3 separate regions of the Homo sapiens genome follow, and all the other regions are linked to region 1. Evidence: fine-mapped expression QTL. A gene starts in region 1. Each other region holds a variant in brackets. All regions are shown on one strand. Distances are from middle to middle. Region 1 holds the start of HSF1 (heat shock transcription factor 1). Region 2 overlaps HSF1 (heat shock transcription factor 1). Region 3 holds the start of EPPK1 (epiplakin 1).

The links.
Region 2: its variant is fine-mapped to the expression of HSF1 in whole blood (TOPMed, PIP above 0.99). The same link has a PIP of 0.9 or more in T cells, esophagus mucosa, fibroblasts and unexposed skin.
Region 3: its variant is fine-mapped to the expression of HSF1 in CD4 T cells (BLUEPRINT, PIP 0.95).

Annotation. Positions count from the first base shown.
Region 1 is chr8:144,290,023-144,292,769 of GRCh38, reverse strand. It overlaps HSF1 (heat shock transcription factor 1), which reads right to left and starts at 1,166. Exons shown (of 13, transcript NM_005526.4): 1 at 896-1,166. The coding sequence starts at 1,012. It overlaps BOP1 (BOP1 ribosomal biogenesis factor), which reads left to right and starts at 1,332. Exons shown (of 16, transcript NM_015201.5): 1 at 1,332-1,498. The coding sequence starts at 1,400. RefSeq lists enhancers at 369-428, 31-687 and silencers at 819-978, 1,089-1,588.
Region 2 is chr8:144,310,901-144,313,647 of GRCh38, reverse strand. It overlaps HSF1 (heat shock transcription factor 1), which reads right to left. Exons shown (of 13, transcript NM_005526.4): 5 at 2,399-2,474; 6 at 2,266-2,327; 7 at 2,047-2,143; 8 at 1,812-1,948; 9 at 1,404-1,685; 10 at 32-137. Among named protein-coding and RNA genes, the nearest start is that of MIR6848, 5.0 kb to the left of the region's middle. RefSeq lists an enhancer at 332-863. The variant G/T (reference allele first, on the strand shown) is at 1,453.
Region 3 is chr8:143,878,347-143,881,093 of GRCh38, reverse strand. EPPK1 (epiplakin 1) reads left to right here and starts at 2,627. Exons shown (of 2, transcript NM_031308.4): 1 at 2,627-2,656. RefSeq lists an enhancer at 1,275-1,917 and a silencer at 2,484-2,573. The variant C/T (reference allele first, on the strand shown) is at 1,244.

The DNA.
Region 1 (2,747 bases):
GGGCTGGTCTCGAACTCCTGGCCTCAAGTGATCCACCCGCCTCCGCCTCCCAAAGTGCTGGGATTACAAGCAAGAGTCACCCCACTCGGCCAGTGTGGCCCTTCTTCAGGTCATCACTTGCCAGCCGCAGGCGGTGGCTCTGCCCCTCACCGGACACGACGTCACAGCCGGGATGTGAACAGCAGATTCTGATCTCCAACTCCAGACAATCACTGATTTACTTCTGCAAACCGGAGCTGTCCGGTCTTGCAGGGTCGGACCATGTAAACAAGCCTGCTGCCAGGCAACTGAAGACAGAAACACGAATAAAGATGCCCCATAAGGAATGAAAAACAAAACTCCTCTTGGGAAACCCAGATTTGGGATTCGGAAACGGGCTTGAGATCAACCTGAAGCTTCATGACGTCTTACTGTTTCCACTGCCTTTCCTGTTCCACTACAGCAACGCCCTCCACTTCACGTGCCAAGTCCTGACTTTCTCCTAATAGTTGCCGACCCAGCACCCCGTAGGCTGTCCCCTGGGGACGCCGATGTCCTCTGGGGCATAGCGTCCGCTGGCGAAGCCGGGTGCTTGCCCTAAGCGCGGACACTTCCGCAACCGCCCAACAGTTAGCAGAAGCCCAATACAAGAGACGCCCCATTCTCCCCATCCCAGGGAAACTTCGCTGGGGCAGGGGTTGAACCGAGTGTGGGTCTCGTAGCCGCTTTCCCAACTTAAGGCTCTGGGTCTGAGCAGGCTCGGGACCCGCCGCCCTTCTCTGGCGGGGGCAGGGCAGGCTCACCGCGCGTAAGCTGAAGTGCGGCAGGGCCCCTCCCCGCAGCCCTCCCGCGCCGTCCGCCGCGGCCCTGCTCCCTCCCGGTCCCCACGGGCCCCGCGCCCGCGCGCTGCCCTCACCGGGCTCCAGCAGATGAGCGCGTCGGTGTCCGGGTCGCTCACGAGGGTCCACAGCTTGGTCAGGAAGGCCGGGACGTTGCTGGGCCCCGCCGCGCCGGGGCCCACGGGCAGATCCATCTCGAGCAAGGAGGGAATAGGCGGAGGGAGCGGCCGCAAAGAGGGGCCGAGGGCCGGGCTAACGCCGTCGCCGCGCCAGCCTTCCGGGCCGCGCCGCCGCCCGCTGCGCACACACAGCCCCGGGGCCCAGCATGGCCGCCGCCATCTTGCAACGGGCGCGCTCCCGCCGCCGCCGCTGCCGCCCTCCCGCGTCACCCCCGGCGCGAGCACGCAGGCCCCGACCCCGCCCTGGTCCCCGGCCCAGCCGCGCGCCTGCGCGTGTTGGTCCCACCCCCTTCCCTCCACCCGCCAATCGGGGCCGGGCTGGGCGGGGCGCGTCCTCCTGCGCACGCGGCCCGGTCGCTGTCGGAAGCGGCTGTGCGGGTGGCGGCCGGCGCGCGGTGGGGCATGGCGGGTTCGCGGGGTGCGGGGCGCACGGCGGCGCCGAGCGTGCGGCCGGAGAAGCGGCGGTCTGAGCCCGAACTGGAGCCTGAGCCCGAGCCGGAGGTGACTGTGGCGATGCGGGGCGGCGGGGCGCGTCCCTAGAGGGCCCGGCGGGCACGTGGCCGCGCTGGGGCGGGTGGGCCCGGCTTCTGTCACCTGGGCGCCCGCGCCCAGTGAATCGGTCTTGGGCGTGGGTGCAGCTCCTCTATCGGGGGGTCTCAGGCAGAGCGGACTGCGGGGTAAAGGACGGCGTCCGGGAAGCAAAGAAACGGGGGAGCGGGGAGTGGGGACGGGGCGCCCCTTGCAGCAGCCTCTCCAGCCGTTCCATTTGTGCATCCTGCCAATAAAAGGGCTCGGCTTGCGCTCCCAGTAAATGCTTAACCTACGTATACGCTAGTTAATTGCGTTTTTATGCTCATGGGATAGACATGAGAATAAGAAAACCTGAATAGAACCCAGTGTCTGCTGCATTTGCTGTATTAGAACTCACTGTTGCTCTCTGCTAGCTCAGCCCTGTCTTGGTTGTGGGGATCATCAAATTGGGTGGTGGAGGGGATGGACAGCCAGCCCCTCACAGCCCCCTCGGCCGCGGCCGCGCTGGGTTGTTGAAACTGCCCCATTGCTTTGTGAAGCGAATTCAACTCATCCTGGCTCCCATGGGCTGAATGGCCCGCAGGCCACTCTAGGCGCCAGGTTCTGCGACTTCCACCCTTGGACTAAACGGTCCTCAGGAGCCAGTTGTTTGCGCCCAGGCCACGGATGCCATTTCCACTAGTTATTGTGATTGTGTAGCCGACTGAATACCAAGACACATCATGACTCTGTGTGAGAGAGGCATTGTGTGAACACTCGGTATGCAATAGCTAATACATGCAGGTCGTACCTTAAGTGAGACTTGTAAACTATTAGGAAAACAGTAAAATCTAGAATTCTGCATTCAACTGCTTCCTTTTTCTTTTCTTTTCCTTTTCTTTCTTTTTTCTTTTTTTTTTTTTTGAGACAGAGCCTGGCTCTGTTGCCCAGGCTAGAGTGCAGTGGTGCAGTCTTGGCTCACTGCAGCTTCCACCTCCTGGCTAACTCAGCCTCCTGAGTAGCTGGGATTAGAGGTGCCCGCCACCACCAGCTAATTTTTGTATTTTTAGTAGAGATGGTTTCACCATGTTGGCCAGGCTGGTCTTGAACTCCTGACCTCAGGTGATCCACCCGCCTCAGCCTCCCAAAGTGTTGGGATTACAGGAGTGAGCCACTGTGCCTGGCCTTCAACTGCTTCCTAAGAGTCTAAGTTCTTGTTCCACCCTTTAAGGCCAGTGAA
Region 2 (2,747 bases), 21 kb before region 1:
CGGGGAGGCGGGGCGGCGGGGCTCCACTCACGTCCAGCAGGGCACTGGTGTCCACGCTGAAGCCGTGGCTGCTCAGCATGGTCTGCAGGTTATCCAGGTTGGAGTCCATAGCATCCAAGTGGTCACTGAGCTCATTCCTGGCCCGGGATAAGGCGGTACCTGAACCAGTGCCCCAGGCCCCACACCCCAATGCCCTCCTGTGGGAGAAGGGCTCCCCTTGACTGTACCCCCCAGGCTGCACCCCCGTGTACGCCTGCACAGGCTGGAGGGGGCAGCGCATTCGAGGACGGCCTGGAAGGCAGTGGAGGCTCTGTGCCCTGCAGGGGTGCGGCTGGGCCTATGCTGGGCATCCCTTTGCCATGAGGGCCTGGGGGCCTTGGTGGCAGTGGACCCAGGAGACAAGGGGCGTATTCAGCTCCAGCACAAGGATCAGGGATTTCAGTGTTCAGGGTTGGTGAGGTTTCCCGTTGCACTGGGAAAACAGGTGGGGCTCTGCTCAGTGTGTGGGTGGCTCAGTCCCTGCCCTGGTGCTGCTGTGGGGATGAGACCCACGGTCTGGTGGCTGTGACCAAGAAAGCCCTAGGCCACAGGGCACACCTGGGCTATGGGACGGACAGCCAGGCTGGGTCCCAGAGGTGCCCTGGAGACCCTGCCTGACAGGAAGTGCAGTCAGCACCGCAGTCTGGATCCTGCCAACACCAGAGGCCGTGCCAGAGCAGGGAGGCCTGTCCCTGTCATCCCTGTCACAGGCAATGACCACAGGCCCGTGGCCAGGGGAGCCATGACGACACTGAGCCCCCGCCACAGAGGGGTCTCGGCTGCTGCCGCCCAGGCCCGACGCTCATGCCCGGCCAGGCTGGGTCTGGTCCACGGCTGTGTGGGAGGGCCCGAGCGCTGGCAGAGCCCTCCTCCCTCCCCAGTGGGGTCAGCGCTAACCCTGGCTGGACTTGGCCATGCGGAGAGGAAGAGGGGCAGGGGAAGAGGCGGGCGACCCTAGACATCTGTGGAGTGCGAGCCAAACTGCAAGATACAAAAACAAGAGCCCCCATTGCAGGCAGGGGCTGGGGGTGTGGAGGCCGGCCCTGCTCACCATCTCCTGCCATGTGTCTGGGCAGCACGACCTGCCAGGGCCCGTGGCCTGTGGCGAGGGTGGCGGCAGCAGGACGGGTGGCTGAGAGCAGGGCCCGGCAGCCTGTCCGGACATGCCCGTGGCTTCTGTGGCGTTTGGGACTGTGGGGTGATCTGGCTGGCACCTGTCTCCCTCCCCAGCCCCGAGCTCCGAGGTTGGGGGTAGGGTCCTGCCTCGCCAGCTGCCCTGCTCAGTCCACTGGGACAGTCGGGGCTGAAGCCCAGGGCTGTGCGTCCAGGCGCTGTGGGTGGGGCCAGGGGTGGGCGGCACTCACTTGTCCAGGCAGGCTACGCTGAGGCACTTTTCAGGGGTGGAGGTGGGCG[G/T]GGGGGAGGGAGGCCGGCCCTCGGTGTCCGTGTGGCCCCTGGCGTCCGTGAGGGCTGTGACGGAGGCGGGGGCAGGTTCACTCTCCCGCAGGATGGAGTCAATGAGGGCGGTCGGGGACAAGAGGGTGTCCACGGAAGATGGGCGCCCGGGACTCGCCTCCTCTACCCGGGGGCTCTGAGGCGGGCTGGGGGGCTCCTCCTTGACACGCACCAGGGGGCTGCTGGATAGGGGCCTGCACACGAGGGGGGCCAGGTGAGCTGGCGTCTCGGCCAGCCCCACCTCATCCCCAACTCTGCCCTGGGCCCACAGGGGCTCGCCTCATTGGGGGACAGGATGGCTGGGGTGATGCGGCCCCCACCTCTCGTCTATGCTCCCGCCGGGGGAGGCCATGGGGCTGGCAGGAGCCAGCTCGGTGATGTCGGAGATGATGGGTCCAGAGCTGGCCACAGCATCAGGGGCGTAGAGGCTGGAGCTGCTGTAGGCTGGGGAGGGGGCCTGCAATCAAAGGCAGGAGGTCCATGCAGTGCCGGCAGGGGCAACCCACCCCACTGCCGCCTGCATGCCTGGGCGGGTGCCCTGTCTCCGGCACTCACCGAGTAGGGGCCCGAGCCGTGGACGTGCTCCAGGGAGAACTGCCGGCTATACTTGGGCATGGAATGTGCTGAGCCACTGTCGTTCAGCATCAGGGGGCTGTGGGGAAGGGTGCAGGTCAGCCACCACCCCCCACCTCGGGGTACCCGGGGCACAGCTGACAGAGAAGGGGGACAGCCCTGGGCCCCGGGTGGTGGATGCAGGCATCCCCAAAACCTCACATCTTTCTCTTCACCCCCAGGATCCGGTTTGACTGCACCAGTGAGATCAGGAACTGAATGAGCTGTGGAGAGAGAGGACACAGTTACCCCGGCCCTTGTGGGGCCCCCGCCGGCCCTCTGGCCCTGCCCCCACCTTGTTGACGACTTTCTGTTGCTGGGCATGCTTCTGCCGAAGGCTGGCCACCTCCCGCCACAGAGCCTCATTCTCACTGCAACAGACCAGGCTGGGTCAGTGGGGCCCAATCCCATGAGCCCCAGGGCTGAGGGAGCCCCACAGACCCTCCCTGTCCCCCATGCAGGAGCAGGGGTAAGTGTGACCATGTCTGGCCTGGCCCACCCCAGGATGAGAACTTGTGTGTGGAGGGACTGGGGGCCAGGGCCAGGGCTTGCTGGTCCCACTGCCCCTCCCTGCCGGGGACACCTGGTGTCACGTAGGGTGTTGGGGATGGATCCATGCGAGCCAGGTGCACCCGGATCCTGGC
Region 3 (2,747 bases), 410 kb after region 1:
GAGGCAGCAGGGCTCCAACCCCCACCTCAGCCCTTCCCTGCCCCCGGAGGCAGCTGCATCACTGGGCTCCCCTGATGGCAGGTGTCCCCTGAGAGCCACTGGGAGAGCAGCCCATGTCTTTGCTGTGAGGGCACCCAGCCTGAGAGGAAGGCTCACCCCCAAGGCTGCCCGCCCCCTGTACCTGGGCCTGCGGTTGGAGCTGCCGGCTGCTATGTCCAGGCCCTTGGTGGAGAGGTCAGCCTGCTGCTCAGCTCTGTCCCACCCGCTCCCGCCGGGCCCTCCATCCTGCCTGCATCTGCCCTGTCTCCTCTCTGGGCCATGTGCCGTGGAGGGGACACCCTGCTCCCAGATGCTTTATGGAGCAATGGCGGGCACTCCCCTTCGAGCTGGGCCATGCCAGGCTCCAAGGGACCAATGGGGATCCTGGCCAAAGGCTCCAACCAGCACGGTGACTCCATGGAGCAGCCCAGGGGCAGCGTGGGCACTGGTCTTGGGGCTCTGGGACCTCCCTCCTTGGACCAGGTCTTCTGAGAGCCTCCCTGACCTGCAGGGGGAAGCTAGGTGCCAGTGCCAGGAGGAGGTGGGTAGAGCCGTGGGCAGTACTGGGCATGGGAGCCCTCTCGCTCACCTCCTGACACCCTCCCTGATGCCCTTCCTTGCTGTGTAGGTGGTATAGGCCCAGGCCTGGGGGCTGGAGGAGTGGCCTGTGGCTCCGGGGACTGCTGGGCTGAAGCACTGGACTGGAGCCCCTGGGGAGGTGGTGGCTCCCAGAAGCCCTGACTGGGAGTGGCCCAGGGACCTGGGGAGTAGGGCAGGCACCCAAGTCTGCCCCCAGAGGTGTCCCCAGAGGTCACTGGGCTGGGGGCCACCACAGGGCAGGGGATCTGGAGTCACAGGAAGACAAAGCCGAGGGAGAGGAGCCAGGGGACAGATGCCAGTGGGTGCAGCAGAGCAGGGCCAGCTCCATGCCACCTGCCTATACCAGGGGGGTGACGGGCAGAAATGGGTGCAGCGGAGCAGGGCCAGCTCCGTGCCACCTGCCTATACTGGAGGGGTGACGGGCAGAAATGGGTGCAGCGGAGCAGGGCCAGCTCTGTGCCACCTGCCTATACCGGAGGGGTGAGGAGCAGACAGGCATGTGGCCCGTCCCTGGGCACACAAGAAGGCTTGGTCTGGCCAGCCTAACACCCCCTTCTTGCAGCGAGGGGCTGGCATACACCCAGGTTTTGTGGCCTGGCAGGGG[C/T]GCTGCCTGCAATGGCTCACCGCAGGAAGAAGTGGCTCTGGGGTGTGCTCCAGGCCACAGGCCATAGCCAGCACCACCATGCCTCCCAGCAAGACCACACAGACAGTGTCCAGGCATCCGGTGAGCAGGGCTGGGGATGGATGCGGTTGGCCTGGCAGTGCCTTGGGGAAATGCGGGTTCCACCAGAGCTCCTCTGGGGTCAGGGCCCCGCAGTCGGCAGCAGCCATGCTGTGCGGCCAGTGTGGCAGGTGTGGACAGGGTCCAGGCAGCCTGGGTGAGCAGGTGTGAGTGTGGACCTGGTGGGTGGGTGAGAGCAGAGCCAGGGCAGTGGTCCCAAGCACCCTAACCCCTGAAGGCCTAACCTGTCCCTCCTGCACCTGCGTGGGCGCCTGCAATTACCCTCATGGTGTGCATTGGAGGTGGCTGGCTGGCTCTGGATGATTTTCTGGTCAAGAATGACTCAGGCAGAGGTGGGGGCTGGAGCTTGGGAGAAGGGGGCACTTGTGGGGGTGGGGAGCACCTGAGCCCTCAGGACCTCCAGGACTACGGGACAGAGGAGGAGGGGCCTTGGGGACAGAGGAGGAGGGGCTTTGGGCCCTGTACTTCCGTGGCCCTGCCCACCTGGGATATCGGGGCAGCCAAGGGGAGGGCCCTCCAGAAGATCCATGGAAGGTTCCCGTGCCAGGCTGAGGCTGCCCCCAGGCCAGCCCCCGAGGCTGTGAGCCTCCATGCCCAGTGTCTCTGGCATGCCCCAGCCTTGGAAGGTGGGTGCCAGGATGGGCTTCAGAGAGGGGACCAGGTACTCCCAGGGTGACAGGGAACATTCTCTGTGCCCAGGTGGAGGAGCCAGACCGGGGGGTGAGGCCTGGCACTGCTCCAGGCAGGACATCCCAGCTCTTACAACGTCATGGGGGCAGGGGGGCCTGCCAAGGAGAGCCTTGAAGACCCCTGGACCCAGCAGACACACGACGTGAAGCAGCGTCCCCAGGAAGCTGAGCAGACAAGGTGGGGTCGGGGCTGGAGGCAGGGACACCAGCCCGCACCGCATTAGTGGCTTGTGGGGATAGAAACCGCCGCTCTGGCCGGTCCGCGTTTCACTCCAAACTCCTTTCCCAAAAAAAAAAAGCTGTTCTGAAGGGCACAGGACGCCTCCGCGCCCGCCCTGCGTTCCTTCGCGGTGACTCCCTGCTGGGGACGAGGGGAGGGTCCCGGCTGCCCAGCCGCCGCCCCTTGCCCGGGGTGCAAGCGCCAGGCCCGGGCCGCGCGGGGTTTCCGGCACCTGCCCGCCCCGCCCCGCCCCGCGTCGGGGCCCCGACCTGGGCGCCGCCCTAGACGGGGGCGGGGCCTGTGGGGCTTGAAATGCGGGCGGAGCGGGCGCGCGGAGACACTGCGGACCGAGCGGCGAGCGGGCAGGTGCGGCGGGTGCGGCGGGTGCGGCGGGTGCGGCGGGTGCGGGCAGGTGCGGCGGGTGCGGGCAGGTGCGGCGGGTGCGGGTGCGGGCTCG